Linked DNA regions of Homo sapiens. The protein of the gene in region 1 purifies or fractionates together with the protein of each later gene. This does not show direct contact. Each region holds a gene or a part of one and is shown in the gene's direction. Other genes may lie near its edges. The genes, in order: DCLK1, TESK2, G3BP2, RASAL2, SIPA1L1, KIF1C and CDK5RAP2.

Region 1 (4,507 bases):
ACTTATCTCTTAACTCTCAGTCACACTAAGGAAGAGATTGAACACTGGATATCTAGAGCTACTTGACCAAATCAAAACTATGTATTCTTCCCATTCAGAACAATCACGTTTGTTAATTTATAATAATCGATGATAATTAGCCCATGAATTGAAAAGCTATTTTTTACAAAATCAGAAAATACAACCAACTTTAATTTAACTGCATTAAGGCGGGAACCACATCTCTTGTGGCAGAGAGAAGTTCAGTGTTATGATTACTGTAAAAATAGTTAATACATAGATTTAAAAAGATTTAATGGAAATTTCTTTTCATGATAAAATGGAAATGTATTAGCATAAGGAAATCAATGGAAATTTATTAGCATAAGGAAATCCATCTGGGCCTTTCCTGAATTCCTGAATAGTGTCACAGACTCTAAATGACTGTGGTGTGTGATCTTGGATTTGGTGGCAGCTCCTTCTCCTTCCTTTAGCTGTTGCTTTCCTGTTAGCACAGTATCATCTGTTACTGGAGTCTCACATCCTTCTCTAAGATTCTCATTCCAGTCTTTAAATCTGATTATCCAGCAGAGGAGCCTCACATTTACAGCTCAGATTAAACACATATTTCTTCTGATCATTGTTGCTTGAACCAAACCAGCAACGCCTTCTCAGTGTAACTGGAGAACTTTCTTATGCTTTTAAACATTTTCAGGGTGCTTTATCTAAGAAGATATTTTTAAAAAGTGTTTATTTTCTCTTTTAACAAACTCACTCCATGTTGCTATGTTCTTTAAAACTGCTCCCTCTTCTAATTTAATATATTTTTAAAGTTTTTGTTGAAATGTAAACTGCTCTCTGTATCTTTGTTTTGCTTTTAGTTATTAGCTTAGTATAGAAACTTATAAATAATCAGACAATTGCATATCTTCAGTTAGCACAGAATTCTGACAGAGGCTAGCTTTGCCAGCTCAGTTACATGCTGTGTGTCTCACTGGGGAGTGTTAGGGCATTCTCACATTGACATGGACCCAACGTGGTGTCCACTGGTAACTGTTCAATATAAGACCTGCTTACCGATTTCTAGTAATTTTGTTTTTGAATTTTTCTTTCAGGCTTACTGCACGATTAGGGTATGTAGCCTCAGGTCATTTTCACTCACATAGCAGGTTTGTATTTGAGATCACTTTGATCTCTATCTTCTAATTTGATCTTCAGAAAAACCTAATGAGGTTTTGTTTTATAGATAAATAAACTACCACCCAGAAATCTGAGGGACTTGTCCAAAGTCACATGCTTGGAGAGGCCAGGTCTTGAGCCCGAATTTCCAGTTCTCTCTTCCCACTATCATGTGCAGGTCATCACTCCATGAAAACTCCCAAAACACTGCTGTTTCTATAGTACCCAAATATGCCTTTCTCAGGATTTAAGAAAATATCAAAAATACATATAAGTTTTTGATATTTACTTAAATCCTGAGGAAGGCATAGCTGAGACAAGTCATGATCTGCCAGGTGAATAGAAATGGGGTTGGTTAAACTTGCACTATTCATACAACTTCTAGTGAGGCATAATGTGTATGTATACACATTAGAGAATATTTTAAGAACATCTGCAAAACAAGTGTTCAGTAACATGTATAACTGCTCTTTTTAACTTTTGAAGGCCTGCTTCAGTTATTTTTATGTGACTACTTATTCTTTGGCCTTGGATGCTTGCACTGTGAATTTAAAAATAATACAAGGACTTAGATAAAAGTCAATGGGCTGTGTTAGATTAGGCCTCGGTCATTTTACCTACAATTATGAAGGTCTTTCAGCATTTTTACCTATTCCTAGTTACAAAAACTTATTAACACAGAAAAAAAGCCATTACAAAATCTTTAATTTCAAAAGGCTTTGACCTAACTTTATGAAATATGTATTTAGAATTCGTCATTTTACAATTTGTTGTCTCTTGGTTCATGTTTTTCTTTTTTGTGTGTGTGATCTACATCTACTTAATAGTCTGATTATTTTCATTAAAAGATTTCCTGCTAAGGAGTCACTTTTAATAAACATTTACTTATATTTATTTTAGAGCCCATTTTTGAAGCTGTAGTTTGTATGTTGAACACTTCTAAAACCTCTTACTTATGAACAAGTATGAATTGACCTTATAGTATGTGTGGATCACTGTGATTGGCACTATATAGATGAGAGAAAGGAAGGGTGATTATTTGCTTGCTTTTGGAACTTTACTGGGCTTTACAAAATCTTTAGCATCAACTCTCATCAAATTCGTAAATTATATGACTATTTTAAGATGCTGTATTCTGATTCATTCTTAGTGTTTAAATTATCTCAGGTAGCAAATGGAGGTACTTCCAATTTTGAAATTTTCTGCAGATTTAAGTATCTCTAATTCCCAAAGAATATTTTCTATTTTAAATTCACTTTCACACTTCTCTAAGGTCTTTTCAAGTAGATCAGCATTTCTATCACCGACCTTAAGATGAGGAAATGGAGGAATAATGTTTTGTTTTGTTTTTCCAGGATGTGGATCTGTTGCTGACAGTGCCAGATTAGCAATCAGAAATCTTTCTTTTTCCCTAATTATTAATCACACTTCCATTGTTTGAAAAGTCAGGGCTAGCTCTTGCCCCTAAGCAGAAAAGGCAAAAGAGAGGATAAGTAGGAAAAAAGAAATGGGCATATTTTAGTATAAATTTAAATATATTTCTCTCTTCCTTAGGAGAGAGTTATGTATGTGGCTCCATAGAGCCCTTCAAGAAACTGGAGTACACCAAGAATGTGAACCCCAACTGGTCGGTGAACGTCAAGACCACCTCGGCTTCTCGGGCAGTGTCTTCACTGGCCACTGCCAAAGGAAGCCCTTCAGAGGTGCGAGAGAATAAGGATTTCATTCGGCCCAAGCTGGTCACCATCATCAGAAGTGGCGTGAAGCCACGGAAAGCTGTCAGGATTCTGCTGAACAAGAAAACGGCTCATTCCTTTGAGCAGGTCCTCACCGATATCACCGATGCCATCAAGCTGGACTCGGGAGTGGTGAAACGCCTGTACACGTTGGATGGGAAACAGGTAAGAGACATATTGTGATGTGACTTTGACTTTAAGGCAAGAACCAGGGAGTCGGAGGGTGTACGTGGCTAAAGCATACATTTTGCTCAAGTTGTTAAAGGGCCTGGGTCACTTGATCAACAAATATGTACTTGCTGGCCCTAGAACAGTCAGAAGTTTGAGTTGAGCAGGATTATTCATAGGAATAAAGTAAGAAAAAAATGCATATCTTTGAAGATTAAATAATTACTCAGTGATTTCTACTTGTTCATTTATTATTTGCTTAACATAATGATTCTTTTCTGTCATCTGTTTTCAGTTTTCTCATAGATCTTATAGCCTGAAGAATGAATGACTGAGGTGTGAAAGTAAACTCTGACCAGTAGGGAAAATTCTAACTTATTTCTTTGACCTAAATATTTTATGATTTTAAGTCTTTGTAGTGTTCGCTAGTGAGATTTACTTACATTTTATAGATTTTAAAATATGTATCTAAGAAATGACATATTTCCATCTGGATAGCTTTAAAGGCATATTTCTAGAATAGTACGCATCTTGTATTTTTCAGTGTTAAAATGAAAGGGAGGTTTTTCAGCTACAGAATGAACATCAGTTGACTTGGATGGGTGGTCATTTTAATGTGAGTTGGTCAGATGAACCCAAAGGAAGCATCACCTTTTATTGTCTTGGGTGGACTATTTTTGTACAGGTTTGACAGAACCTTGATGGTGAGTTGAATTAAAAAACATTGATTAGGGCCGGGCACGGTGGCTCACGCCTGTAATCCCAGCACTTTGGGAGGCCGAGGCAGGCGGATCACGAGGTCAGGAGATCGAGACCATCCTGGCTAACAGGGTGAAACCCCGTCTCTACTCAAAATAAAAAAAAAAAATTACCTGGGTGTGGTGGTGGGCGCCTGTAGTCCCAGCTACTCAGGGGGCTGAGGCAGGAGAATGGCGTGAACCCGGGAGGCGGAGCTTGCAGTGAGCCGAGATCGCACCACTGCACTCCAGCCTGGGTGACAGAACAAGATTCCGTCTCAAAAAAAAAAAAAAAAAAAAATTGATTATATGTACAGCATGATTTGCTAGTCATTCAGAGTTTACCAGATTATACTTTTGAGCACACTATCTTTGCTGGAAGTTTAGTTTTTAATGTGGTGCTATCAAAATGCTTTTTTAAAAAATTTTTTTTGAGGGATAATTTGAATGATTTGTATGTATAGTAAATATTAAAATTAAAATGATCCATGAATTAAAAGATTGATCTTATTAAATAGAAGACTCCTCCAAGTTCTTAAAGGCTAGCGCATTCAAACTTTCTGAATTAGAAATAGATGCTAATCCTAGAAAGAGTATTAGTCATGAAAGAATACTTCCCTTAGGGATCCATTCAGATGCTCTAAATTATAAAATTCATTAGGAAAGAAGGAATATGTGCCAGTTGTTCATTTGTATTTACCATCTTTT
Region 2 (4,507 bases), on another chromosome or scaffold:
CATTGTCAGTAATTAATGAATTGCTTCCCAATTCACTGAGAAAATTGAAGCAAGCAGAAGAGAACTTCTGCAGACTTCCATTACTACAAATAGCTATCAACACACATCTTTACCCAGTTACTTGGCCTTTATACCTTGTACTATGGATCAACTACTCATGCTCCTAAGTCCATTATTTCTGTTTATATTGTACATTCCATTTCCACTTGCCTACTAATAGGCATTGCCTAAGAAATTCTCCCCTCTCTTTTCTACATTGTATTTTCACTACTAAGTATTACCATTAACATGTTAAAAAAATTCTTTTAAGGAAAAAAAAAACCCAAATATTTTGGCTCTGTTATTTCCCCTTTATTTTATTTTATTTTTATTTTTTTTGAGATGGAGTCTCACTCTGTTGCCCAGGCTGGGGTGCAGTGGCATAATCTTGGCTCACTGCAACCTCTGCTTCCCGGGTTCAAGCAATTCTCCTGCCTCAGCCTCCCTAGTAGCTGGGATTACAGGCGCCTGCCACCACACCTGGCTAATTTTTGTATTTTTAGTAGAGACAGAGTTTCACCATTTCGGCCAGGCTGGTCTTGAACTCCTGACCTCAAGTGATCCACCTACCTCAGCCTCCCAAAGTGCTGGGATTATAGGCATGAGCCACCGCGCCCAACCTATTTTATTCTATTATTTTATTTTATTTTATTTTATTTTTTGAGACAGGGTTTCGCTCTGTCACCCAGGCTAGAGTGCAGTGTGGTGTGATCATGGCTTACTGCAGTCTTGACCTCCCTGGACTCAGATGATCCCCCCACCTCAGCCTCCAGAGTAACTGGGACTACAGGTGCATGACACCATGCCCAGCTAATTTTTGTATTTTTTGGAGAGTTGGGGTTTCACCTTGTTGCCCAGGCTGTTCTTGAACTCCTGGGCTCAAGTGATCAGCCTGCCTCGGCCTCCCAAAGTGTTGGGATTACAGGTAAGAGCCACCACACCCAGCCCCTATTGTTTCTTTTATTAATAGGTATACTTTCCCATGTCTTGTTTTTTTTTGGACCAAAACAACTCCATAGAGTTGTCTCTATGTACCATTTCCAGCTTCTTTCTTTCTAATGTGTCTTTCTCTAAAATACTTTTTATTGCAGTAAAATATATATAACATAAATTTACCATCTTAGCCATTTTTTAAGTGTACAGTTCAGTGTCATTAATTACATTTACAATGTTGTACAACCATCTCCATTATCCTTTTCCAGAACTTTCTCATCACCTAAACAGAATCTCTGTACCCATGAAACGTTAACTCACTAATTCTCCCTTCTGTAACTGTAAATGGGTTCATTGCCCAATGCACACAGCAAGTCAATAAGCTGAGACTCCAGGTTGCAGCAGAGAAAGGTCTAATCATAGGGCCGCCAAATGAGGAGATGGAGGAAAACCTCAAATTCATCTCCCGTAAGAGATGGGGGCTAAGGTTTTTTAAGGGTTTTGAAGTGGGCCGAAGTGTGGCAATTGTTTATTTGTTAAAGAGTACAGGATGAAGTCATGGGACAGGGAGATGAAGAAGCTGTATTCTCTTGCAGATCCCGTTCCTCTGTGGGGGACTTCAAACTGGTTGCTGGAATTCAGGGGTCTGAAAAACATATTAAGCAATCCTTAAACAAAAGCCTTATGATTATAATGTCAGAGATCCTGTTATAGGAAAGATGGGGATAGAAATAAAATCTTAAAGTTTTATGACCCTAATGTCAGAAATCCTATTCTGTAGGAACAATAGGAATGCAAATAGTCAGTATCTAGTGCTATATGACTTTTAGCAACCAGGAAGTGGGCCAAAGTGCGGCCTGATTAATGCTTAATTATAACTATATTTCTGTCCAGAACCTGGCATGCACTTCTTGTGAACCCTGTGGGGGCAGTTTCACTCCCACCCACTAATATCTTCTACTTGCTGTTTTTATGAATTTGCTTATTCTAGGTACCTTATATAAGTGGGTTAATATAATATTTATCCATTTGTGTTAGAGTTAATTCACTTAGCATAGTGTTTTCAGGGTTATTCATGTTGTAGCATATATTAGAATTTCATTCCTTTTTATGGCTAATATTGCATTGTGTATATATGTCATATTTTATCTGTCGATGGTGGGGCTGTTTCCACCTTTTGGCTATTGTGACTAATGCTGCTATGGATATTGATATACAGGTATCTATTTGGTTCTTTGCTTGCAATTCTTTTGGGTATTTAGCTGTAAATAGAATTGCTGAGTCATATGAGTAATTCTATGTTTAAGAAAAGATTATGGTAAAATACATACAAAATTTACCATTTTGGCTGGGCATTGTGGTTGACGCCTGTAATCCCAGCACTTTGAGAGGCCAAGACGGGAGAATTGCCTGAGCCCAGGAGTTTGAGACCAGCCTGGGCAACATGACGAAACTCTGTCTCTGGGGGAAAAATAAAATAAAATAAAATAATAAAAAAATAAAAAATAAATCTTTTTCTTACTATCTTAACAGTATTTAATTATGTTAAGTACATACTTAACACAACTGTTAAGTATGTACACATGGTTGTGCCTCCAAACTCCAGAACTTTTTCATTTTGCAAAACTGAAACTCTGTACCCATTAAACAACTCCTCATTTCTCCATTCCCCCCAACCCCTGGCAACCACTATCCTACTTTATTTCTAAGAGTTTGACTACCCTAGATATCTTATGTAAGTGAAAACATACAGTATTTGTCTTTTTTTGACTGCCTTATTTCACTTAGTCAATCTATGTTTAACTTTTTGAGGACCCACCAGACTGTTTTCCGTAGTGGTTGTGCCATTTTACAGTTCTATCAGCAATATGTAAGGGTTCCAGTTTCTCCATGTGCTCACTGACACTTATTTTTCTTTTTCATGGTAATCATCCTATTTGGTGTGAAAAGTGGTATCTCATTGTGGTTTTGATTTGCATTTTTCTAAACAACTAGTGATATTGAGCATCTTTTCATGTACTTGTTGACCTTTTTTGTATATCTTCTTGGAGAAATGTGTATTTGAATCCTTTGCTCATTTTTGAATTGCATTGTATTTATATATTTTATATATAGGGAATATTTATCCCTTACCAGATATATGATTTGCAAATATTTTCTCACAATTTGTAGTTTGTCTTTTCACTCCCATGATGGTGTCCTTTTTTGCACAGAAATTTTAAATTCTGATTAAGTCAAATTAATTTTTTCTTTTGTTACCTTTTGCTTTTTGTGTCAATCCAAGGAATCATCACCAAATCCAATATCATGAAGATTTTCCACAATGTTTTCTTCTAAGAGTTTTATAGTTTTAGCTCTTACATTTAGGTTATTGATCATTTTAAGTTAATTTTTCAATATCGTATAAAGTAAGGGTCCAATTTCATTCTTTTGCTTGAGGATACCAAATTTTACAAGCACCATTTGTTGAAAAGACTGTCCTTTCCCCATTGAATGGTTTTGGCACCCTTCATGTCACAGTCAATTAACCATGTTAGAGAGGGTTTATCTCTCTCTCTCTCTTTTTTTTTTTTTTTTTTTTTTGAGACAGGGTCTCATTCTGTTACCTAGGCTGGAGTACAGTGGTGCTATCTCACTGCAGCCTTGACCTCCCAGACTCAAGTGATCCTCCCACTTCAGCCTCCCGAGTAGCTGGGACTACAGACACACAGCATCATACCTGGCTAATTTTTGTATTTTTTTTTGTAGAGTTGTGGTTTCACCATGTTAAGGCTGGTGTTGAACTCCTGGGCTCAGGTGATCAGCCTGCCTCTGCCTCCCAAAGTGCTGGGATTACAGGTGTGCACCACCATGTCCAGCCTCTTTTTTTTCTTTTCTTAGAGACAGGATCTCACTTTGTCATCCAGGCGGCAGTGCAGTGGCGTGATCATAGCTGACTGCATCCTCCTGGACTCAAGTGACTCTCCCATCCCAGCCTCCCAAGTAGCTGGGATTACAGGCATGTTACTGTCACGTCAGGTAATTTTAAAGTGTTTTGTACAGATGGAGTCTTGCTCTGTTGCCCAGGCTGATCTTGAATTTCTGGACTCAAATGATCCTCCTGCTTCAGTCTCCCAAAGTGCTGGCATTATAGGCATGAGCCACTGCACTCAGCTTTTTTTTTTTCTTCTTTTTTTGAGACAGGGTCTTGCTATGTTGCCCAGGCTTGTCTTGAACTCCTGGGCCTGGTCAGTCCTCCTGCACCTGCCTCCCAAAGTCCAAAATGCTGGGTTATAGGCGTTAGCCACCGTGCCCAGGCTTTTTCTTAAGATGGGGTCCCTCTCTGTGTTGCCTAGGCTGGTCAAACTCCTGGCCGCAAGCAATCTTCCTGCTTCAACTTCCTGACTTGTTAATTCATTTTAATTTTTGTACTCTGATTGTTAGTGAAGTCCTTTTGTTTATTGGTCATTTATAAAACTTGTTCACTTATGTTCTTACCTGCCTTCTTCTGTTGTGTTGATTTTTTTTGTAGTTCTTTACATATCCTGATAGTAAT
Region 3 (4,507 bases), on another chromosome or scaffold:
ATTTCAAATCCTCTTTCTTTTTACTGTAACTGAGGAACCCCAAACACCTTTCCTTAGGCTCTCTAAACATCCTTTTCTGTAAATGAAGATAATGCCCTATCTATTTTAAAGACAAAAGAAAATAGTAGGTTACTTGTTAAACTTTAAAACATAGTATAAATACATGCTTTATTTTTGTGGACAGCAAGCATTTCCATTTCTTACTGCTTGGTCACTTTTAATAGCTTCTGAATTTTAAAACTAGCCTCCCTCAACTTCTGAGAAGGACAGAAAACAAAAACACCTTTTGGAGCCTGAATAAGAGATTTAATCCATAACTTACTTTTATTATTTATTTGTACCACTATGATTCTTAGATCTTCTTTGTGAAGCTTTCATTCAATGGTGTACCACAAAAGATTGAAGGTCATTTCTTTAAAAAGGTATAGTGTTCCTTAGATTGTTTAAGTTACTTCAAACAAAAACCATCTGGAATTTCAGAAAGTTCCAGTATTAATATGCATTTAGCTGTTGGAAATGGATATAGTCCATGGTTCAATTAAAATAAATAAACCTGACTAGTTTGAGCCCAGCTATGAGTGAGGGACTCCAGAGGGGAAAGGGGTAAGTATCCTATAGTGGAGATAAGCTGTGTCTTAGCACCCACATAACCTTTGGTAACAGTATCTGGTAAAGAGAACTGCCTCCTATTACTAGAGGTCTTATTCTTTTTATAATAACTAATACCAAGTACTTACAACTCAGCTCACTGCAACCTCCGCCCCCGGGTTCAAGCGATTCTCCTGCTTCAGCCTCCTGAGTAGCTGGGATTACAGGCGCCCGCCACTGCACACGGCTAACTTTTTTGTGTTTTTAGTAGAGATGGGTTTTGCCATGTTGGTCAGGCTGGTCTCGAACTCCTGACCTCAGGTGATCCACCCATCTCGGCCTCCCGAAGTGCTAGAATTACAGGCGTGAGCCACTGCACCCGGCCTCTTTTTCCTTTTGTAGTTTCTGGTACATACATAGTAGCCATAAAATAAATGTTGAAATGAATTTATTTTGTATAACCCATTGACTCAGCTTGTGGATGGGAATGAATGAAGTAAGACAAAGGCGCAGAGAGTGAAATTGCAGAGAATAATATTAGGTGATTAAAATATTTGTATAGAATTTGATACAGGGATGAGAAAGTATAGTAGGAGATAAATTTGAAAGGTTGGTTATGACATTGAATGTCAGACTGGATTTCTGTGTAGGGCCTTAGATGCCAAACTGAATGCAGGTGTTTGGATTTTACTCAGTACAGTATATACTACACGTGATACAGGGGCTTGAAAGACTTTTGAAGAATAAAAGGTCTGAACAGTGGGAGTGAAAAGGAGGGCACAAATTCCACCTTCTGAATTGTAAGGATTTCACAGTTTAAGTGGCAAAGCTAAAGGGGAGAAAGTCACGACTGAGCTTTCAAGTTGAGAAGATTATGACACTTTTAACAGAAATAAGGAAATAGCTTTCTTTGGTGCATGCGTGTATTGGGACATATGTGGGTCATGTCTAGGTGTTCAGTATGTGGTGACAAATGTAAAATTTGAACTTATGGTATAGACTAGATACACGTTTAGGTAGACATGAGACCAGAAGCTGAAATTGCCAGGTTAGAAGACAGAACCTTGAGAAATTCTGCGTTTGGATGAGAAGGAAAATTTGCCTTATAGAACTCTAGAAGAGTTAGGAGGAGGTAGTCAACATTGATAATGCAGATGGGTGGAGGATTGAGAAGTCATTCGATTATTGAGAAGAATTGTGATGTTTCCAGAGAATTGCATTCAAAGGAGAGCTGAGTTATAATATTTGAGAGGGGAATAGAAGATGAAGACAGGTGTACAGTTAGTAATTTAGGGCAGAGCATGATCAATAAACTGCTATGATAAAGGCCAAAAGTGCTTTAAGAGTTAATAGAGAAGAGTTATATTCTGTTGAGGAATTCAGTAGGAGTAGAAAGATTTTCAAGGGGACAGGATTTCTGCTGGGCCCAGATAAATGCATAGGGTTTCAATCATTGCAGATAGGAAGGTGTGAGATGAGTATTGGAGGAGAAGTCAAAAGTCCTGCTTCTTGTTAACAGACTTTTAGGATCTTAGTGTTGGAATGGCCTAATCTTACTTTTTTGGATGTATGGACTCTACTATGTTTGTGCCAAACCATTCAGTTAGTCTCTGGAATACCTGTAGTGACTGGCTACTTGTTAAGTAGCTCTATTTGATATTTGGACAACTCGCGTTATTCTTGTGTTATGTTTCACCCAAATCTACCTTCTTATAATTTCCATTCACTATATTCAATTAGCAATCAACTCATTTTAGATATTACATCTAAATTAATGTAGCCTAAGATTGATTGTTTTGGAGGCAGCCCCATTATAGTAGTGATTCACTGAACTTTAAATGGTAAACAAAAAACCTAAATGTTTCTTACCTAAAAGGTGACGTTTTAGTCAAAGTTTGAGGAAAGGAGAGTGATAACTTTGGTTTTTACGTTATTTTGAAACTGAGGAAATATAAGTTCATTGTAGGATAATGAAGCTCAATGTGACTTTCTTTTCTAATCTGCATGTATGTCTACCAATGCTCCACTCCCTCTCAGTGTGTATTATCTACCAATACTCCACTCTCTCTCAATGTGTATAATTAATAGATTCAGAAAATATGGTGACAAATATAGAGCAATTTTCCGTGAGAGCTGAAGTGCATGTGCTTCAGGAATTAGGCAAATGCAGAGGAAACATTTTAAGAAACAGGAATGAATAAAATATTCTGATGAAGATTCACTGGGATTTTAGGTGCGATAGGCAGAGTTGGAGAGTAAAAAGCCTCTAAACTATACTGGATAATGTTTTCGGTTTTTTGTTTTTTGAGACAGAGTTTCGCTCTTGTTGCCCAGGCTGAAGTGCAAGGGTGTGATCTCAGCTTACTGCAACCTTTGCCTCTGAGTTCAAGCAATTCTGCTGCCTTAGCCTCCTGAGTAGCTGGGACTATAGGCGCGTACCACCAGGCCTGGCTAATTTTTTGTATTTTTAGTAGAGACGGGCTTTCACTGTGTTAGCCAGGATGGTCTCGATCTCCTGACCTTGTGATCCTCCTGCCATTGCCTCCCAAAGTGCTGGGAAGTAGGCATGAGCCACTGCGCCTGGCCTTGGATAATGTTTTCATTTGACAAGTAAAAGACGGATTTGTTCATGAGAGAGCTTTGACTGTGTATAGAGCTAATGTATCAGATAAAATTTTACACTGTGCATTCCTGTGTGAGATTCTTCACATTTTCAGGTGTCATTGGAAGAAGTGGAGTGTGATATATTGTATTTAACTTTTTCTAAAAAGGTTGTTAGGTGAGGCTAACAACCACCTTATTGAAGATGGTAGTTATCTTTGAAGGTGCTAATCTAAGAACTTTCTAAAGATTTCTTTTTGTGTATAAGTATCCTTTAATCTTGGCTATCTTTTTTTTTTTTTTTTTAAACAGTGTCTCACTCCTGTTACCCAGGTTTGAGTGCGGTGGTGCCATCTTGGCTCGCTGCAGCCTTGACTTCCCGGGCTCAGGCATTCCTCCCACCTCAGCTTCCCGAGTAGCTGGAGCTACGCTTGCACACTACCACGCCCCGCTAATTTTTTGTATTTTTTAGTAGAGACGGGGTTTTGCCATGTTGCCTGGGCTGGTCTCAAACACCTGAGCTCAAGCGATTCACCCACTTTGGCCTCCCAAAATATTGGGATTACAGGTGTGAGCCACTGCACCAGGCCTTCTTGGCTATCTTTGTAGAACTGTATAGTCTTGTAGGCTTGACCGGGGATTTCTTCTCAATTTGTAAACTAGGAAATCGAGATCCAGTAAGGTCATGAGTTTTTCATGGCCATGGATAAGATAGTTGAAACCTTTTACTCCCATATTCAGAATTTTGTTTCGTTTTGTTAACTTTTTTTAAGAAATGGAAGGTCCCAGATCTAGAAATGGATTACCTGTAAGATGATTTGCTATGAATAATAAAAATGGCACAATTCTTTCTTCTTGTAATCACTTTTATTCTGAAAGTGTAATTTGGCTTTTTTCCTTTTTCTCAACCTTCTTACGTACACTGCATGAATTATAAATACGAACTTTATATTACTTACTCAATTTTCATAGTCTTATTTCCTGCAATACCCAAACCACGTTGTTTGATGGTTGATCTCTAGTAGTCATTTTCTGGTTGATTTCTATCAATTATATTTTGGCTCTCTAAATTCTGAGTCACTTCAAATCGGAGTTATGGTTAAAGAAGTAACTGATGTAATTAGTTGAAACACTGTTCTCTCAGTAAATCTTGATTTTGTTTTACCATTCCTTTGGGAGCCTCCTCTGCACCTTAAAAGCTCAGCTTTCTATATAACCTGTTATATGCCTGTTTAGATTTTACCAGATTAGCATTGCCTTACTTATTTACCATTTGAAGTTAACTTTTCAAGTTACTGCCTTCCAATAGTTCTAAGTA
Region 4 (4,507 bases), on another chromosome or scaffold:
TTATTGTAGATGAAAGGCATATGGGTATTCATTGTATATTCTTTCAACTTTTCTGTAGGTTTAAAATTTTTCAAAAGAAAATTAGGAGAAAACAGTTGGGAAGGAAATGTACTAAAATATAAACAGCAGATATATTTGGGTAGCTTGAATGATACATCCACACTTTTTTCTTTCTACTTTTCATTGTTTCAAACTTTTTTCAGTAAGTTTATGATATTTTTATAATTTATAGAAAATAAATTTAAGAAATGGCTGGGAAGGAATTCACATTTACAGAACTGACCACAGATTTACTCAGTATTGATGCTTAAAGACAAGTTTCTGTTAGCAATGTATTGAAGAAAAAAATTGGAACTTCAGTGAACAGATTGTTTTCTAGTATAAGTGGTGGCTTTTTAGAGGTGTACTATTTTAATTTTGTATAATTTATATATAAGCCAATGCAGAAATATACATATTTATCGATATTTGAGCTAAAAATATTTATATTTTATTTTGGAACAGGTTTTATGGACTTAAACTAGGCCCTGCAGATAGCTAGAATCTAGATAGGCAAAGGAGAGAAGTTTTTCTCTAGTGCAAGTAAATAGCATGGGCAAAAGCTTGGAGAAGAAAAAAATGTGTAATATATTTGGGAGACTTTGTAGAAGCTAGCAGTATTGAAGGTTTGTACTGGTGAGCTTTTGGTAGGTAAGTGAGGGCTATATTGCAGAGAAATTTAAATCCCAGAACTAAAAAAAAAAAAAAAAAAAGGAGTTTTGGCTTTACCCTTTAGAGAGAATAGAAAGCTATTCTCAAAGCATTAGAATATTAAAGTGATATTAAGAAAGTATGTTATAACATTTATCACTTATAGATAATAAACAAAATTAGTCATTCCCTCCACAAAATAAAAAAAAGTAATAGTTCTGTGTAATGTCAAATCAAAATGATCATATCTCTCTTGAATATGTTCTTTCTCATTTTCTCATCCTCTACTTCAGGTTTGGTAACAAAGAGGAATACATGGCATTCATGAATGATTTTTTAGAACATGAATGGGGTGGAATGAAGCGCTTTCTTTTGGAGATCTCTAATCCAGACACCATCTCAAACACCCCAGGCTTTGATGGTTACATTGATCTGGGCCGAGAGCTTTCAGTTTTGCATTCCTTACTGTGGGAAGTAGTTTCCCAACTTGATAAGGTAAAGTAGGTTGGTGGAAGATAGAGAACTTTAATGTACCTGAATTCTGGAAAGTAACTATAGAGTGATAGCACTCACTCTTTCTGCTAATTGAAAGCAACTGTTTACCCTAGAAATCTGAGAGTAAATGGTCATCATTTCTGAGTAAAATATGAGATCGACAACCATGAAACTCTAGAAAACCATGACATTATTAATATATGTTTTTAATAATTATCTGAATTAATGGAGTATATTTCTCTAAATTTATATATACAGAGTGCATATCTGAAAACTTGACTAGAAACTAATATATTGGTATATACAGCCTTATGCATGTCTAATAGGATAAGATGAAACCTCATATAGTAATTTCTAATAAAAGTATAGATTTAGCTAAGAAAATACTAGGTTTATCATGTTTTAAGTAACTACCCATGAAACAAATTTTTTTACTATACAAGTCATAGAGTTTCATATAATTATTAGTGCTAACAGTCATTGTTTTCTTTCTTTACAGATGTGAATTAAGAATACAGAAAGCAATTATTTTTAATCGTTTGCTAAGAATTTTATTATATACCGTATTAATAAGTAAATATACACCATGCCAATCATTTTCTTCCTTCTGGAATTTAACAAAAAGGAATAGATTTGGTAGTAAAAAATAGTCTAAAAGACGTTGGCTAGGCTTATTACAATAATTATTTATTGATGTTTTTGTTTGCTACAGGCACTTTATAAATATGTGTGGTGGTATGTTAGAATAACTTCAAAAGACAGTCATTTTTCTATGATAATGATCTACTTATTTTCCTCTATTTTCCTATCAATAAAAATGCTATATCAGTAAAATTTGAAGGGGAATAAAACCTATTAACAAAGACCACTTTGCTGAGGAAACATATGTGGTAATGTGTCCTCCAGTGCTTAAAATATTTGTAAAACAATAAACTGTTCCTTATTCTCGAGGACCTTTTCTTCACTTTTAGAAATGCTAGCTAGATTTTTAAGTTGCAGCTATGCCAAAGATAAACCCTTTTCATGTGAATCGTAGCCCAACATTATTGAGCAAGTAAAGGCCTTGGTGGCATCTATCCCTGTTTGAGTAGGGTAGAAGAGTCTGTTGATTGTTGAGAAGGCAAAGACCCAAAGGCAGCTATGCCAAACTGACTGACAGTTGAAGGGGACCCCTAAGACCCCATGAGAATAAGAATTCCCTAAATAAAAAAATGATTGAAATGGATAAAGCAAGTATTAAAGAGTTCGTCTTTGTTGAATAACTGCATCTCAGTGGAATGCAGATTCAGTTTTCCTGTGAAATGGGCCTGGTTTATTCAGGATCAAAGTCTTTTTAACGGGCTTTGCTATGTAAACACACTTTCTCCTTTTTAATCTGTGTTTGGTCCTGGGAACCAGGAATACATCTAGACATATCTCATAGAGGAAGTTTACCTGATTTTGCTGTTAAATTAACAATAAAAATTGTCTTACTGATGGAAACTCAGTTGGCAGTGGGTCAGGGTTCCCAAGATTGACTGGGATAGTGGATGGCAGTATCATCTGTGTGCCCTGCAGTACTCTGGATTCCTGAATGAGCACCTTCTTATATGTTGGCATGCATTTCTTTTCTCACATGATCCCTTTTCTTTGAAAGTTTATCATACTAGTTGATCCTCTGATCTTGAAGTTCTTTTGGTTAGAAGGAATTTGGTTCTGCCTCCACCCTCCCCCACCTTGATCTACTAGCCTCCCAAAGATTTAGTTTGCTTCGCATGCCTATTTTAGTTGGAATGGCATTAGTTTGGTAGTTTTGAGCATGTCTTTTAATTTTTACTTGCATAATCCTGATTTCGATTTCCTTTCTTTCCTCGATGTCTGCCGCACCTTGTTTCGCCTCCTCCATTCATCTCGACGCCATGGTTCTGCTGCTCCATAACAATGCATTATGAACCTGCCACTCCCATATGCAAACACTTACCCTTCCCTCCAACCTACACCCCTCCATCAATGGCCATCGTTGTGCCAAAAACAATCTGTGGTGGATGTCGCAATGCTTATTATCCAATTAGGGTGAAAATTCCTTCCTACAGGCGACCGTGGCAAAATTGGGGCCTCTCCCTCGTGTTCTTGCTGATATTACCAAGTCATTGACTAATCCTACGCCAATACAACAGCAACTGAGACGCTTCACTGAACATAACTCCAGTCCAAATGTCAGTGGAAGCCTCTCCTCTGGGCTGCAGAAAATATTTGAAGACCCCACTGACAGGTATGAAAGAGAGAATTTGACCACTATCTCGGAGAAACATAATGTTTAGATTTAGCAGAAGTATATTCAACCTATTTGTTGAATTTACAAGTTTAAAATCATGAGCAACTGAAGACTCATCTGACCTGAGAGCAGTCCAATTATTTGTCATAATAATGCACAAGATCTGGGATGACTTATTTTCTAGAATGGTAGTATAGAGAGTTACAATATATTCCACAAGCATATTTTTAAAATTTCTGTCTTGCTTAGTGGAAGACTAAAGGCTTTATGAAATTCATGTTTCTGTACGTTATAGCATTCAAAATCTTGGAGAACCTCGGTTAAAACCATTTTATAGCTGGCTATGTCAACTGGACAGGTAGATACAATGTCGATGCTTAGACTGTTTTAGGGATTGGCAAGACTTGTGCCTTTTGCAGGGACCTTTCAGTTGTGTGCTTAGAACTTCTTCTCTTGAAGGTTTAGACAAGTAAGTATGAATTGGAATATTTGGGGAAGGTTTAAAACCTAACTAGGAAATTATTGGAATCCTGGTTAAAACTGAAGACAGTGATGGGTTGGTATCTACAGTGTTATTCTGTACCTTTGGGGAAAAAGTAAAAATGCTGGATTTTATTCTAAGCATTGTAATAATTCCCTAATTAGATAAAATCTGAGTTTCCAAAGAAATGTACGTATCCACATAAGAACCTTCGGAGGAGTTCATATGCCTGAATTGAGGCATCTTAGCCATGTTGAAGTTGTCTCAAGAGAAATTAAGTGTCCTTTCCTTTTCCACAGTGATTTGCATAAACTAAAATCTCCAAGCCAGGACAACACAGACAGCTACTTCAGAGGGAAAACATTATTGCTGGTTCAGCAAGCCTCCTCTCAGAGCATGACTTATTCTGAAAAGGATGAAAGGGAAAGTAGCCTTCCTAATGGTCGGAGCGTCTCCCTCATGGACCTCCAGGACACTCATGCTGCTCAAGTGGAGCATGCATCTGTCATGCTTGATGTGCCTATACGCTTGACCGGAAGCCAGCTTTCCATAACCCAGGTGGCCAGCATCAAACAGCTGCGGGAAAC
Region 5 (4,507 bases), on another chromosome or scaffold:
TAAAACGTGGCTTCTCTCTCTCCCATGTGCTTATTTATATTTTGAAATGAAAAGAAAACATTGAGTCGTTGTTATATAATGTAATGGGAGTCTTGAAATTTCTTTTGAATTGGTAAGAAATTTTTATATTTAAAAATAAGATTTTATAAACTCATTAAAAATATTGGAAGTATATGAGATGGTTTGGAAGAGAAATACTGATGGTGGAGACTGAGCATTTCCAAGTCAGTTTTATTTCTTGTATTTTACTGCCAGCTTTTAGTTTCCTCCTCTAATGGAAATAACTTCACATATCCTGGGAAAGACAGCTGTGCAGTAAAGTATTTTCTAAGGCACATGAAATGTGGCAAGAGTTTTTATCATGGTGGGATTGGTGTGTTGTCCTTTTAGAGAATGAATGTTTGGGGAATGAAAGATGATTTATTTGGATTTCTGTGAGGTTGTGAGAAATGTTGAAAGCATCTAATTTTTATAAAATCTACTTTAGAAGTATTATTTATGCTATGTAGAGTATTCATTGAAATAATCAGCTTTTGGGGAGATGTTGAACAGGTGTTTGCATTTTGGTTCAGTTGTTCAATTTTCCTTCCATTTTATGAGAATCACTTCTTGAACCTTTGCTATGGCCATATATGCTGTCCTTTGATATCCTCGGAAGCAACAGTTAGCATGTTTTGTCACTTGAAGGGTTATCATTGAAAGAGGAACATGTAAAGTTCTGGAATGTAAAGGGAATAATAGCAGTCTGACAGTAGAAGTATCTAGAAAGCTCAAAAGCCATGTTTAATTAGGTAGCAGTGCAAAACTATTATCCCTTTTACAAAAGATGGTGAAGAGGAGTGCTAGTGAAAACAAATGGCATTTATCTGAATGGCTCCACAGACTCAGCCAGCACGAGCCCAGCCAGAGCTCGCCTCACCCTGCATTCTGCAGGCAGCATGCATTTTTTTTTTTTTTTTTTGAAACACCCCTACATGTTCCAGCCTTTAAATAGCAGCGAGTCTTCTAAAGTGATGCTGTGTGCTGCAAGAGAAATGAAAGCGCCTGCCTTGGAGGCAGGAAGCCGACTAGGGAGATGCTTAATTATCGTGGAAGTAGGTGCTTGTTACCATTGAGTGGAGAGTGCAGCAAGTGCAGGTCGTCCTCCGGTGTCAGAGCCGTGATTTGTAGACAATGCCGCCCTGTCAGCTCAGTGCTGGTTCAGCAGCATCTTTCCAAACATGTATTTGGCAAGAATTTAAAGGCCACCTCTTGTGTAATTTGTGGAGTCTTGGAAAAGGAGCCTCTGCCTTTCTTTTCAGAATGTACGCAACCATGCAGAATTTTGTACTCAGAATCTGTGTCTCCTGCCTTCTGCCTGACGTGCTCATGAGGAAGTTTGTTTCCATGCCCGTCACCTGGAAGGATGCTAACAGTTCTCTGTAATCTGTTGGGGATATGGAGAGGGCCACCCAGAGCTGTGTTTTGTTTCTGCCGTCTTCATAAATTAGCACTGATGGGGTGGAGTAGGTTGTACTGCATGAGGAAATGCAGGCATTTTGTTCATTAGTGAGATACTTCTAGCTTTTAAGAGTACAAGAAACTAAGGAGAGCTTGGGAAGAGGTGGTGGTGAATGCTGGATTCATTCTGCAATATCCTCGTCTCGGTAAGTAATAAAGTAGAGGAAAATACAAAAGAGTGCTAATGGATATAATGGCTCTGGGAAAACTCTTTTTATTTATTTTTTCCTGCTGTATTTGTTTTTGCCAACTATGTTAAGCCTTTGTAAGGAAACAAAAAACATGTATTGATTTTGGAATAGAGGAGTTAAAAAGTGATTGTTGCAGCATATTCAGTAAAGTCATTTTTCAGTTTTTACTTTTGTCAAAAAACTCTGTTGCTCTAATTATCTTATTCACTTGGTTACATCTCAAACTTCTGGTCATCACAGTAGCTCATGATGTTCTACATTTTTAGAGGTCATTGGAGCAAAAGTCTGTACTTTGGGTAGGAGCCATGATATCCAGAACAAGATGTACCCCTCCCCCTGCCCCCCATTTTATGAAACAGTTCAATTAAGATGAAGTCTTAATAGTTTTTTTTTTTAGAATATAAATTATGGATTTTATCAAATGGTTTTTACTTTCTTCCTTTCTTTCAAACCTGCTTTACTAAAAATACGGATTGTGGAACTGTGAATCCTAATCCATTATTGAGTCTTTTATCTTCATGTGTCTGGTTTTGACAATTGCATGTTTGTTTTTAGATGTATTTATCTGCTAATTCAAATTATCCTTTTCTCTTTTAGAGAAAGCATGGGATTATGGCAACCACAGAATCTCAGTAGTACAAGTTCCATTCAGTTTTTTCTGAAAGAAAGCCCTCTGTTAAAGTGAAGCAAAGAAACTGTTGTGGATTATAACGTTTAGAAGTTCCAATTTTTCAGTGCTTTACAAATAAAGCATCATTTAACCTTTTAAATGAAAAAGATTAAGATCTCATGCAACTGTTGTATTTTCTGGAAGCCATTCTCCAAAAGGGAAGTGCACATTTAAAACACAGATATGATGGTCCTTGCTGCAGGGATTTAAGTCTACTTGCTTTTACATCATGACCAGCTTGAAACGGTCACAGACAGAAAGGCCTCTTGCCACTGACAGGGCCTCTGTTGTTGGCACAGACGGCACCCCCAAAGTCCACACTGATGATTTCTACATGCGGCGCTTCCGGTCCCAAAATGGCAGCTTAGGATCATCAGTTATGGCTCCTGTAGGACCCCCCCGAAGTGAAGGTTCTCACCATATAACCTCAACCCCCGGAGTCCCAAAAATGGGGGTAAGGGCAAGGATTGCAGATTGGCCCCCAAGAAAGGAAAACATAAAAGAATCTAGCCGTTCAAGCCAGGAAATAGAAACCTCAAGTTGCCTTGATAGCCTGTCCTCCAAAAGCAGTCCTGTGAGTCAGGGAAGTTCTGTTAGCCTCAATTCCAATGACTCAGCCATGCTGAAAAGCATACAGAACACGCTGAAAAACAAGACAAGACCGTCGGAGAACATGGACTCCAGATTTCTCATGCCTGAAGCCTACCCCAGCTCCCCCAGAAAAGCTCTTCGCAGAATACGCCAGCGAAGCAACAGTGATATCACCATAAGTGAACTTGATGTGGATAGCTTTGATGAATGTATCTCACCTACATACAAGACTGGACCATCACTGCACAGGGAATATGGTAGCACATCTTCAATTGATAAACAGGGAACATCTGGAGAAAGCTTTTTTGATTTGTTAAAGGGCTACAAAGATGACAAATCTGATCGAGGTCCAACTCCAACCAAGCTCAGTGACTTTCTCATTACTGGTGGTGGCAAGGGTTCTGGTTTCTCTTTGGATGTAATAGACGGGCCTATCTCACAGAGAGAGAACCTCAGGCTTTTTAAGGAAAGGGAAAAACCACTCAAGCGACGTTCAAAATCTGAAACTGGAGACTCATCTATTTTTCGTAAATTGCGCAATGCCAAAGGTGAAGAACTTGGGAAGTCATCAGATCTTGAAGATAACCGATCAGAAGACTCTGTCAGGCCCTGGACATGTCCAAAGTGCTTTGCCCACTATGATGTCCAGAGTATATTATTTGATTTGAATGAGGCAATTATGAACAGGCACAATGTTATTAAGAGGAGAAACACCACCACTGGAGCTTCCGCAGCTGCCGTGGCATCCTTGGTCTCTGGACCTCTGTCTCATTCAGCCAGTTTTAGCTCCCCAATGGGCAGCACAGAGGACCTGAATTCCAAAGGAAGCCTCAGCATGGACCAGGGAGATGATAAAAGCAATGAGCTTGTAATGAGCTGTCCATATTTTCGGAATGAGATAGGTGGAGAAGGGGAGAGGAAAATCAGCCTTTCAAAATCAAATTCTGGCTCCTTTAGTGGATGTGAAAGTGCCTCCTTTGAGTCTACCCTTAGTTCCCATTGCACAAATGCAGGAGTGGCAGTACTTGAAGTGCCCAAGGAGAACTTGGTGTTGCACCTAGATAGAGTGAAAAGATACATCGTGGAACACGTAGATCTGGGTGCATACTATTATAGAAAATTTTTCTACCAGAAGGGTAAGTAGAGATCCTTTATTTCTTACATTTTCTTTTGCAGTACTTTCTGAAGAAAAGTACTGTATATTAAGATATTTATTAACAATGTGACATAAGATTTGCATGTCTTATCTTTCTTGATGGTAAAATAGCTAAATAACCATTTGCTCAATTTATTTCTTTTTGCATTTTTTGAGTTACTTTCTCCTTTCAGATATATAAATGTCTTGTATGTTAAATAGTACTTTTACAAATAAAAAGCCCCTTTGACTTAGCGATTGAAATTATAGTCTTTGTTGTACAGTAGATTTGCTGTGTCACCTTTAGGGATAAATATACCAAGTTGAAAATATTTGAAATATAGCTGTTGTTTAAGGATTGCAAAACAGTTTTAATGCTACTTTCATTTTTTATCACTTCCACAGTAAGTACAGGAATCA
Region 6 (4,507 bases), on another chromosome or scaffold:
GAAGGTGAGTGAGGAATCGAGCGAGGAGGCCTAGAGAGCTCTCTGGATGCCTAGAAAAGAGGCAGCAGGTGCAGGGTAGTGAGTGCTGTCCCTGATCGCTCCCTTTGAGGTCCCCGGCTTGTCCCTCCATCATTTCTGTCCCCTCCCCTGCCACCTCCTCTCCGTCTTGTTTAGTCATCCCTGCCTTCTCCCTTCAGCCATTCAACAGTCAGCCTCAGGAGAGGGAGAGGACCTGGGAAATCGGAGGTTGGTTGCAATAGAGCATGCTTTTGTATCATTTGAGTTTTGTATTCTGTGCATGCTCAAAAAGATAACTAAAGAAATCTATTTTTCAGAAGGATAACTTGGGAAGACAAGACTAAAGGGAATAGAGGAGGCATGAGCACTACATTGTAAGACAGTGGTTGCCAGTGCAGCGAGGGGTTGGTTATAGATGGAGGCACCCGTGTAGCTTGGAGCTATGCTGCAACTGGTTTCCTGGAGAAGGTGGTTTGGAAAGTGGAACCTGAAAGATGGACAGGACTTGGGAAGTATGGAGGAGTAGGGCCAACATGAGGTTGAAGAGCCTGGGGTACATGTTGGGGTGAGTGGGACACGCCAGTGCCTGACACGTGCCTGCCGCCAGGTTTTAGGTACCTAATAAATCTTTGCTGAAAGGAAGGAAGGAGCAGGGCGGGAGAGGTCAGGCTCAGGTGGAGGCAGGAATGATACTCCAAATATTAATAACCATCCGGCATAGGGACTGACCAGTCAGAAAGGACACTGGATATAGACAGCCAGCACCGCTGTACCGGTGCATACCAGTGAAGGGATGGTGCAGAGGCCAGTATACCAGTGAAGGGATGGTGCAGAGGCCAGTTTGAGCAGAGCATGAACTTCCAGTTCCACCAGGGAACCAGCCCAGCCCGTCTGGACCATGGTGTGAAGCAGCAGAGGATCAGGCCCTAAGTCAGATACACTGTGCTCTGAGCCAGACAGTGTCACTGGGGGCTGCCTGGAAGAGGTGATGGGTTACCAGAAGAAGGCTCCTCTCTGTTTTGTAAAGTCAGGTCCATCTGGGGGACTAAGCAAGCAGGGATCACTGAACCCCTGTTCTGAAAAGAGGAGAGGGGTTTTGCCTTGCCTGGCCCAAGCCACATTGAGGGAGTGAAAGAGCTGTGGGCGGTAGGCCAGGCTGCGTGTCTGGGGTCTTGTCTGGGGCTGGGTACCCTGGGGCTTTGGGGTCCTTCTGAGGGATCCAGACTCTTCTGGGACCCAGCCACACCTAGGTGGAAAGAGGGGCTACGGATGCGCTCAGCATGGCTTCCAGCCACCTTTGTATACCTGGAGCTGGGCCGCTTCCACCACGGTTGCAAGGATGGAGGAAAAGCAGAAAGGACTGGGGAGACTGGTGGGGTGGAGGTTTCTTCCTTGGAGAGCTTGCAGAGATGCCACCTGCCAAAGCCTGGGGACCAAAGGAGGGGGTTCTTGTTTTAATTGTTCTTATAAAGGTAATACACACCAGAGAGAACATTCTAATAGTTCTAAAAGGTGTGTACAGTGAAAAGTCTCCAATTTACAGCATTTTGTTATAGAAAAAAAAAAAAAGTAACTCTCCATCCTTCCCACCCTTAAGTTTCCCCTCAGAGGCAGCCTTCATTATGAGTTCTTTTTTTTTTTGAGACGGGGTCTTGTACTGTCACCCGGGCTGGAGTGCAACGGTGCAATCTTGGCTGACTGCAACCTCCGCCTCCTGGGTTCATACGATTCTTCTGCCTCAGCCTCCCAAGTAGCTGGGATTACAGGCGCACACCATCACACCCGGCTAATATTTTGTATTTTTAGTAGAGATGGGGTTCACTATGTTGGCCGGAGTGGTCTTGAACTTCTGACCTCGTGATCCACCCACTTCGGAGTCCCAAAGTGCTGGGGTTACAGGTGTGAGCCACCGTGCCAGGCCCATTATGGGTTCTTACTATATTCTCCTTGGGTCGGGCCTGGTGGCTCACACCTGTAATCCTAGCACTTTGGGAGGCCAAGGCGGGTGGATCACGAGGTCAGGAGATTGAGACCATCCTGGCTAACACAGTGAAACCCCGTCTCTACTACAAATACAAAAAATTAGCCACGTGTGCTGGCGGGCGCCTGTAGTCCCAGCTACTAGGGAGGCTGAGGCAGTAGAATGACATGAACCCGGGAGGCAGAGGTTGCAGTGAGCTGAGATCGCACCACTGCACTCCAGCCTGGGTGACAGACAAGACTCTGTCTCAAAAAAAAAAAAAAGAAAAAATGTTCTCCTAGAGATGCTGTCTAGGAGATGTTATAACACATGTACAGGCATATGTTATATAGAACTATACACATTTACTCACATTCACGGCCTCTCTAATAGTTGTAGTTGCATATCTATTTTATTTATTTATTTTGAGACAAGAGTCACACTCTGTCGCCCAGGCTGGAGTGCAGTGGCACAATCTCAGCTCAGTGCAAACTCTGCCTCCCAGGTTCAAGTGATTCTCATGCCTCAGCCTCCCAAGTAGCTGGGATTACAGGCACCCACCACCACGCCGGGCTAATTTTTGTATTTTAGTAGAGACAGGGTTTCGCCATGTTGGCCAGGCTGGTCTCAAACTCCTGGCCTCAAATGATGCACTGGCCTTGGCCTCCTGAAGTGCTGGTATTACAGGTGTGAGCTACTGTGCTTGGCCTGCATACCTTATTTTAAAGCTTCCTTTATTTTTTTCACGGTGTCAGGGTATTCTATTGTGTAGATGTAGGATAATGTATTTAACCAGCTTCCCACTGATGGACATTCAGATTGTTTCCCATTCCTTGATACTACAAAAAAAGGCTACAATGCATAGTCTTACAAATGGGTGTTATCTGTAGAGCAGATTCCTAGAAATGGAGATTTTGGGTCAAATGGTAGCCATGTAAAATTTTAATCTAGGCCGGGTGCGGTGGCTCACGCCTGTAATCCCAGCACTTTGGGAGGCCGAGGCGGGCGGATCACGAGGTCAGGAGATCGAGACCATCCTGGCTAACAAGGTGAAACCCCATCTCTACTAAAATAGAAAAAATTAGCCGGGCGTGGTGGCGGGCACCTGTAGTCCCAGCTACTTGGGAGGCTGAGGCAGGAGAATGGCGTGAACCCGGGAGGCGGAGCTTGCAGTGAGCCGAGATCATGCCACTGCACTCCAGCCCAGGTGACAGAGCGAGACTCCGTCTCAAAAAAAAAAATTTTTTTTTTAATCTATATTGCCAAAGTGCCCTCTGAAGATTATAACCATACCAATTTATTTTACTTTTTTGAGATGGAGTCTTGCTGTGTTGCCCAGGCTGGAGTGCAGTGGTGCAATCTCGGCCCACTGCAAGCTCCGCCTCCCGGGTTCACGCCATTCTCCTGCCTCAGCCTCCCAAGTAGCTGGGACTACAGGCGCCCACCACCACTCCTGGCTAATTTTTTGAACCATACCAATTTATACTCCCAAGGGTAACATACAAGAGAGCCCATTTCCCCTCGCCCTTTCCCACATTCTGGCTTAGTAAGACTTTTCTCTTTGCCTGTGTGATTGGTGAGAAGGTGTCTTAAGGTAGTTCACTTTTACATTTTTCTCAAGGTGGTGAGGATGAACTCTTCTCATGTTTAAAAGCCATGTGGTCTAAAGCCAGAAGAGAGAACTGTTAGACTCATGGGGAAATGGGTTTGGTGTGAGTAGCTCCAACAGGGAATAGTTGGGTCTTAGAGGAAAAAACTACAGTTTGTCTTGGAGGGAGCCTCCTCTTGCTAAGACCCCCACCACCAGGGCTAAGGATTGCTTAAATCAGTGGTGTTCAAACCTGGTTCTGAGCTGCCTTCTCAGGGGCTGAGGATAGGGACAGGACCAGACCCTGGGGCTCTCACCCCCAGCCTGGGCCTGAGCAGCTTCTTGCTTATCTGCTTGATGTCCTAGGCTTCTAGAGAAGGTTTCATTTTGAACAAAGAGTTATAGGGCTGAAGAAAAAGTTGAAAAGCACCGCCTCAAATCGTGTTCCCTCTCCCCAGGGATAGATTGCTTTCTGCTTCCGGAGCCCATCAGCGTTTGCCAGTCCCAGAGCAGGCCTGACACTGCAGTGTAGGGAGGGGCATGGGAGTCCCTCAGGAGAAGTGTCGCAGGAGTGATCCTTGGAGCACTTGGGTGAAGGGCGGATGCACAAGATACACAGACACCTCTGGGGGACACAGCTTTGGGCTCTGAGTGTTAAGTGGCTCCCAGAGAAATAGAGGTTCGACTCCGTGCTGTTTCCCTTCTGTACCCTGTGCTTTCTGCCTCCATGCTTCTGTCCAGGCTGCTTTCACCCGGAGCGCTCTTGTGCATGTCCACGCCCTCCTTGTCCTCAAAGGCTGGCTCCCATGTTACCCTTCCATTAAGTCCTCCTGATCCCCTTGAAATCCCATAGTTCTTCACTTTGTTCCTCTTTGCATGTGAGTCCCTCCCAGAACACAGTGGCACTCAACCCCCTGGGAACAAATGAATGAATAAACGAA
Region 7 (4,507 bases), on another chromosome or scaffold:
CAGATGTCATTTTTCAAACTTCAGTGTTTGCCTGTAGGAAGCTTGTCTAAGACCAGAATCTTTGGCTTTGTTTGCTAGGTACTTTTCAGCTGTGATTGATCTTGGCTTGAGTTATTCATGGGCAGTTTTAGCCAGTGGGAGTTAATGTAATGGCTCTGGTACCCGGAGAGAACCCCAGATTGAGAATGCAGGACCAGACCTTAGGCTGAGCTTGGCCAATAACCTGGTGTATGTGACCTTGGGCTTCTGGACCACCATCTGCAAAAGGTGATGGTTGAACTTGATTTTAGTTTTTAAAATTCAGTTTAGAAAATTGACTTTGTCCTTTTAGTGATGTTTATTGGAGGAAATTGAGAATTATATAACATTAAAAAGGAAGAAAACCTCTCATTTCCCTACTAATGATGATTTTTAATATTTCAGTATATTTCCTTTGTCTTGTTATATATCTGTAGCCCACCTATTTCCAAAATGGACTTGAGGTGACTTCAGTATTTATGTACTGTATATATTTGTTTTCATAATTGAGGACATATTCTGTTTACGTTTTTTCATTTACCTTTACAGGGGACACTTTTTTTTTTAAATTTTTTTTTTTTTTGAGATGGAGTCTCACTCTATCACCCAGGCTTGAGTGCAGTGGCATGATCTCAGCTCACTTCAACCTCTGCCTCCTGGGTTCAAGTGATTCTCCTGCCTCAGCCTCTCAAGTAGCTAGGACTACAGGCACCTGCCACAATGCCCGGCTAATTTTTGTATTTTTATTAGAGATGGGGTTTTACCATGTTGGCCAGGCTGGTCTCGAACTCCTGATCTCAAGTGATGCACCAGCCTTGGCCTCCCAAAATACTGGGATTATAGGCATGAGTCACTGCACCCAGCCCGGACACATTTTTTTGTGATCATTTTCTTAATGTTGGAATTTTATGATATTTCCAATTTTTTGCCTGTTTTTGATCTTGAAGGTACATTCCAACTCCAAAGTTTGGTGGTCAGGCAAAATTATCCTAGGAGCACAATGAATTTGGATTTAGAGGCATGGAAAGAGCAAATTGCCAAGAAGTCAAGCTGTTTCCATCAACTCCTACTTTACAGTGTGGGATAGGGAAGTATTCGTGGGAGTTGGACATAAAAGACCTGGCTTCTGGACCTGGCTCTCCACAGAACCGCCATGTGACCCTGGCTAGGACAGTAAAATTGTCTGGGCCTTGGGGCCTTCCTTTGAAAAATGTGTGCACCCTCAGGGAATTAGGCAATTCTAATGATGGTAAATCTTTTATAAATTGTAAAGCACTGTAGGTTTCAAGGCGACATGATATTTTGCTCCCATTTGTGGAGTACCCACAAGGTACCTTGCAATATCTTGTTTAATTGCCAGTTACTCTGTGAGGTAGCTGCTGTACTCATTTTACAGCTAAAGAAAGTGAGGCTCAGAGAGATACATGGCAGAGCTTAGAATAGATCAGGGTAGTGTCTTTTGTGTCACACCACACCTCCTATTATGGGTTAGTTTTCTGTCAGTGTCTCCAGATCCTCACTGAATTTATTTATGTAATTCAACCAAGACAACTTCTTGGATCAGTGAATTTTGCATTGTTTGACATTCTTAAAACATCTAAATTGGTGTCTGATTCCCAGAGGTGGTGATAGGCATATTAGTAGTCATAATGATAATAGTAACAACAACAATAGTTGCCGTTTACTGAATACTTACTATGTGCTTTGTGTTTATATACATGAACGAATTTAATTTTTACAGGGAGGGCATGGTATCCTCATGTACCAGATTAAGAGGGTGAGACTCAGAAACATAAGTATCTTGTACTTGTCACAGTGCCTCTGCCACTAGCACATATTTGGCACACAGAACATTTGATGTATGACTGAATGAATGATGTTACTGAAGGTCACTCAGCTATCAAGTGTTGGAGCTGGAACTCAGCCCCAAAGCCTGAGTTCTTAACCTCTGTGCTTCATGCCACATAGGTAGCCCAGCTGTGTGCATCCCTCCTGGCCATGGGATGATTGTCATGTGCAGTCCAGACCGTCTTAACAGTCTCTGTTGTTCAAACATTAGCTCATCTCTTATCTCATGTGTTCTCTCCTAGTGGCCTTGTTCCCAGTGTACCAGATGACCTGGATGGCATCAACCCCAATGCTGGGTTGGGAAATGGTCGTAAGTACACAAAACCAGGCATTCTCTTGAGTAAAGAACAAGGAAAGTAGACATTGGACTGTGAGCATCTTGAGCTTTCATATCTCTGGGGCCCAGAGGCTTCCCTGAACTGGCACACCGTAGGTGCTCAGTATTTTTTGTATGTATTGATTTGCTTTCCACCTCCTTTCATAAACACTGGACTAGAGGAATTGTTGTCCTTTTGGCCATACTTCATGAGTTTCATTTGTTGCTACTAAAGCTATAGGGATTCAGTGAGCGTTTGCTGAACTGAACAACTGCACGGAGGCTGGACATTGAATTGGCAGCTAGGCCAGTGGCTGGAGGCCCAGGAGAGCTGCCATCTGGACTGTAGCGTGCCAAGGCCTTCCTGGCAGGCTGCTGGATCCTGTTTGCCGGCTGAGGCCCCGCATTCCTACACGGGCCTGCCCTTTGGAGACAAATAGCTGGTTAGACCACAGGAGACGGCTCTGAGTAAATAAGTAGCGTACTGTGTTTAAGCTGGATTATGAGGAGACTTTGCAGTTTGGGTCTAGCTAAGCATTCTTCATAATTTTTATTTCTGAAAAAAGTGAATGCTTAAGCGTCTCTGTGGGTAGTGCTAGTTTTTGCAAAATATCTCTAAGATATTTTGACTTGTTCTTTTTTTTCTCTTCTCCACAGTGCTGAGATATGTGCAAGAGGAGGGAGATTTTGGAGCAGACAGGAAAAGAGTCCCACGGTTTATTTCTGGAAAATCCCTTAACTTACAGGGCACCTTCATGTTTTCCTGAGGAACCTATTAACTTTTACTTTATTTTTACTTTTTATTTTTTTGAGACATGGTCTTGTCCTGTCACCCAGGCTGGGAGTGCAGAGGTGCGATCACGCACACTGCAGCCTTGACCTCTTGGACTCAAGCAATTCTCCATCTCAGTCTCCCTAGTATCTGGGACTACAGGCGTGTGCCACGACACCTGGCTAATTTTTGTATTTTTTGCAGGACGGTTTTGCCATGTTGCCCAGTCTGGTCTCGAATTCCTGGACTCAAGTGATCCACCTGCCTCAGCTTCCCGAAGTGCTGGGATTACAGGCATGAGCCACTGCACTCATTGGCAACTTTTACTTTAAATGCAAAATCCAACAAGTCTGATTTGAGATGGAGTCTCGCTCTGTTGCCCAGGCTGGAGTGCAGTGGTGTGATCTCGGCTCACTGCAACCTCCGCCTCGTGGGTTCAAGCAATTCTTCTGCCTCAGCCTCCCGAGTAGCTGGGATTACAGGCACGTGCCACCACACCCAGCTAATTTTTGTATTTTTAGTAGAGACAGAGTTCACCATGTTGGCCAGGCTGGTCTCGAACTTCTGACCTCAGGTGATCCACCCGCCGCAGCCTCCCAAAGTGCTGGGTTTACAGGCATGAGCCACTGTGCCTGGCCAGCCTATTTCTTAATTTAGCCGATAGTATACATTTGCTTCATGCCAGACTCTGGGCTCAGTGCTAAAATTCAACCTCAAATGTGGTTACTGTTAAGCTGAGAAGACAGACAAACCCTTATGAGAATTTGTATGGTCAGTGTCAGGAGCAAAGATGTATCAAGTGCTGTGAGAGGGGATTAAAGGGAGATTTCCTCTGGTGTGGAGGTGGGTCAGGCTAGAGTTTCCCAAGAAATTGATATTGGAGCGGAGACCTGAATAAGTCAGATGTAGGTAAGGAAAAAGGAGGGGATGAGCATCCCAGACACAGGTGAGGGCATGGCCCGTTTGAGGAACAGGAAAACAAACTAGCGTGCCCTTCACAGTCTGCCCTGCCCACTCCTTAGCCTCTTTTCTGCTAAGTGGTTTCCGAACACCATGCCCACTCCCACCTCTGTGCTTTTGCCTGGGCTGTCTCTCCTTCCTTTTGTTTCTCATCTGCCCGGTGCCTCCTTGCTCCCTCTTTAAGACTCAGCTCAAAGCTCACCACCCTTTTTGGCTCTCCCCAGGCTGACTAAGGTGTACTTTCCTCTCTCAACATTGTGTATTTCACTTCATCTCATCTCATTTCATTTATTCCTGTTGGCTACTTTTAAAGTATCGGAATCAGACTAGTTCTCACCCACCTATACTCCTTCCATCCTACTCCAACCCACCATGATCTGCGGCCTAGATTATCCCAATATTCTCCTAACTGGTTTCCCTGTTTCTCTCCTAAGCCCCTTACAGTCTGTTCTCAGAAAGGCAGCCAGAGGGAGCCTGTAGAAACCTAAGTCGAATCATCTTACTCCTTAGCTGCAAACCTTCCAGCAGCTCCTCAGAGTCCTTAGAAGAGCCTAAAAACCGTATACAGTCTGTCCCTGTTTACCTCTCTCACC

Evidence for each region.
Region 2: the proteins of DCLK1 (region 1) and TESK2 purify together in Homo sapiens (affinity purification with mass spectrometry, with the first as the bait; one large-scale study listed by BioGRID). This does not show direct contact.
Region 3: the proteins of DCLK1 (region 1) and G3BP2 purify together in Homo sapiens (affinity purification with mass spectrometry; one large-scale study listed by BioGRID and IntAct). This does not show direct contact.
Region 4: the proteins of DCLK1 (region 1) and RASAL2 purify together in Homo sapiens (affinity purification with mass spectrometry, with the first as the bait; one large-scale study listed by BioGRID). This does not show direct contact.
Region 5: the proteins of DCLK1 (region 1) and SIPA1L1 purify together in Homo sapiens (affinity purification with mass spectrometry, with the first as the bait; one large-scale study listed by BioGRID). This does not show direct contact.
Region 6: the proteins of DCLK1 (region 1) and KIF1C purify together in Homo sapiens (affinity purification with mass spectrometry, with the first as the bait; one large-scale study listed by BioGRID). This does not show direct contact.
Region 7: the proteins of DCLK1 (region 1) and CDK5RAP2 purify together in Homo sapiens (co-immunoprecipitation; one large-scale study listed by IntAct). This does not show direct contact.

Annotation. Positions count from the first base shown.
Region 1 is NC_000013.11:36,110,421-36,114,927, reverse strand, and holds part of DCLK1 (serine/threonine-protein kinase DCLK1), read left to right. Parts: intron 1-2,712; coding exon 2,713-3,059; intron 3,060-4,507.
Region 2 is NC_000001.11:45,452,390-45,456,896, reverse strand, and holds part of TESK2 (dual specificity testis-specific protein kinase 2), read left to right. Parts: intron 1-4,507. UniProt on the Homo sapiens protein: Dual specificity protein kinase activity catalyzing autophosphorylation and phosphorylation of exogenous substrates on both serine/threonine and tyrosine residues. Phosphorylates cofilin at 'Ser-3'. May play an important role in spermatogenesis.
Region 3 is NC_000004.12:75,666,277-75,670,783, reverse strand, and holds part of G3BP2 (ras GTPase-activating protein-binding protein 2), read left to right. Parts: intron 1-4,507.
Region 4 is NC_000001.11:178,453,464-178,457,970, forward strand, and holds part of RASAL2 (ras GTPase-activating protein nGAP), read left to right. Parts: intron 1-983; coding exon 984-1,185; intron 1,186-3,236; coding exon of another isoform or gene 3,237-3,257; coding exon 3,258-3,436; intron 3,437-4,219; coding exon 4,220-4,507. UniProt on the Homo sapiens protein: Inhibitory regulator of the Ras-cyclic AMP pathway.
Region 5 is NC_000014.9:71,585,283-71,589,789, forward strand, and holds part of SIPA1L1 (signal-induced proliferation-associated 1-like protein 1), read left to right. Parts: intron 1-1,015; exon of another isoform or gene 1,016-1,646; intron 1,647-2,288; 5' UTR 2,289-2,590; coding exon 2,591-4,088; intron 4,089-4,507.
Region 6 is NC_000017.11:5,007,539-5,012,045, forward strand, and holds part of KIF1C (kinesin-like protein KIF1C), read left to right. Parts: coding exon 1-4; intron 5-4,507. UniProt on the Homo sapiens protein: Motor required for the retrograde transport of Golgi vesicles to the endoplasmic reticulum. Has a microtubule plus end-directed motility.
Region 7 is NC_000009.12:120,569,643-120,574,149, reverse strand, and holds part of CDK5RAP2 (CDK5 regulatory subunit-associated protein 2), read left to right. Parts: intron 1-2,108; coding exon 2,109-2,176; intron 2,177-4,507. UniProt on the Homo sapiens protein: Potential regulator of CDK5 activity via its interaction with CDK5R1. Negative regulator of centriole disengagement (licensing) which maintains centriole engagement and cohesion. Involved in regulation of mitotic spindle orientation.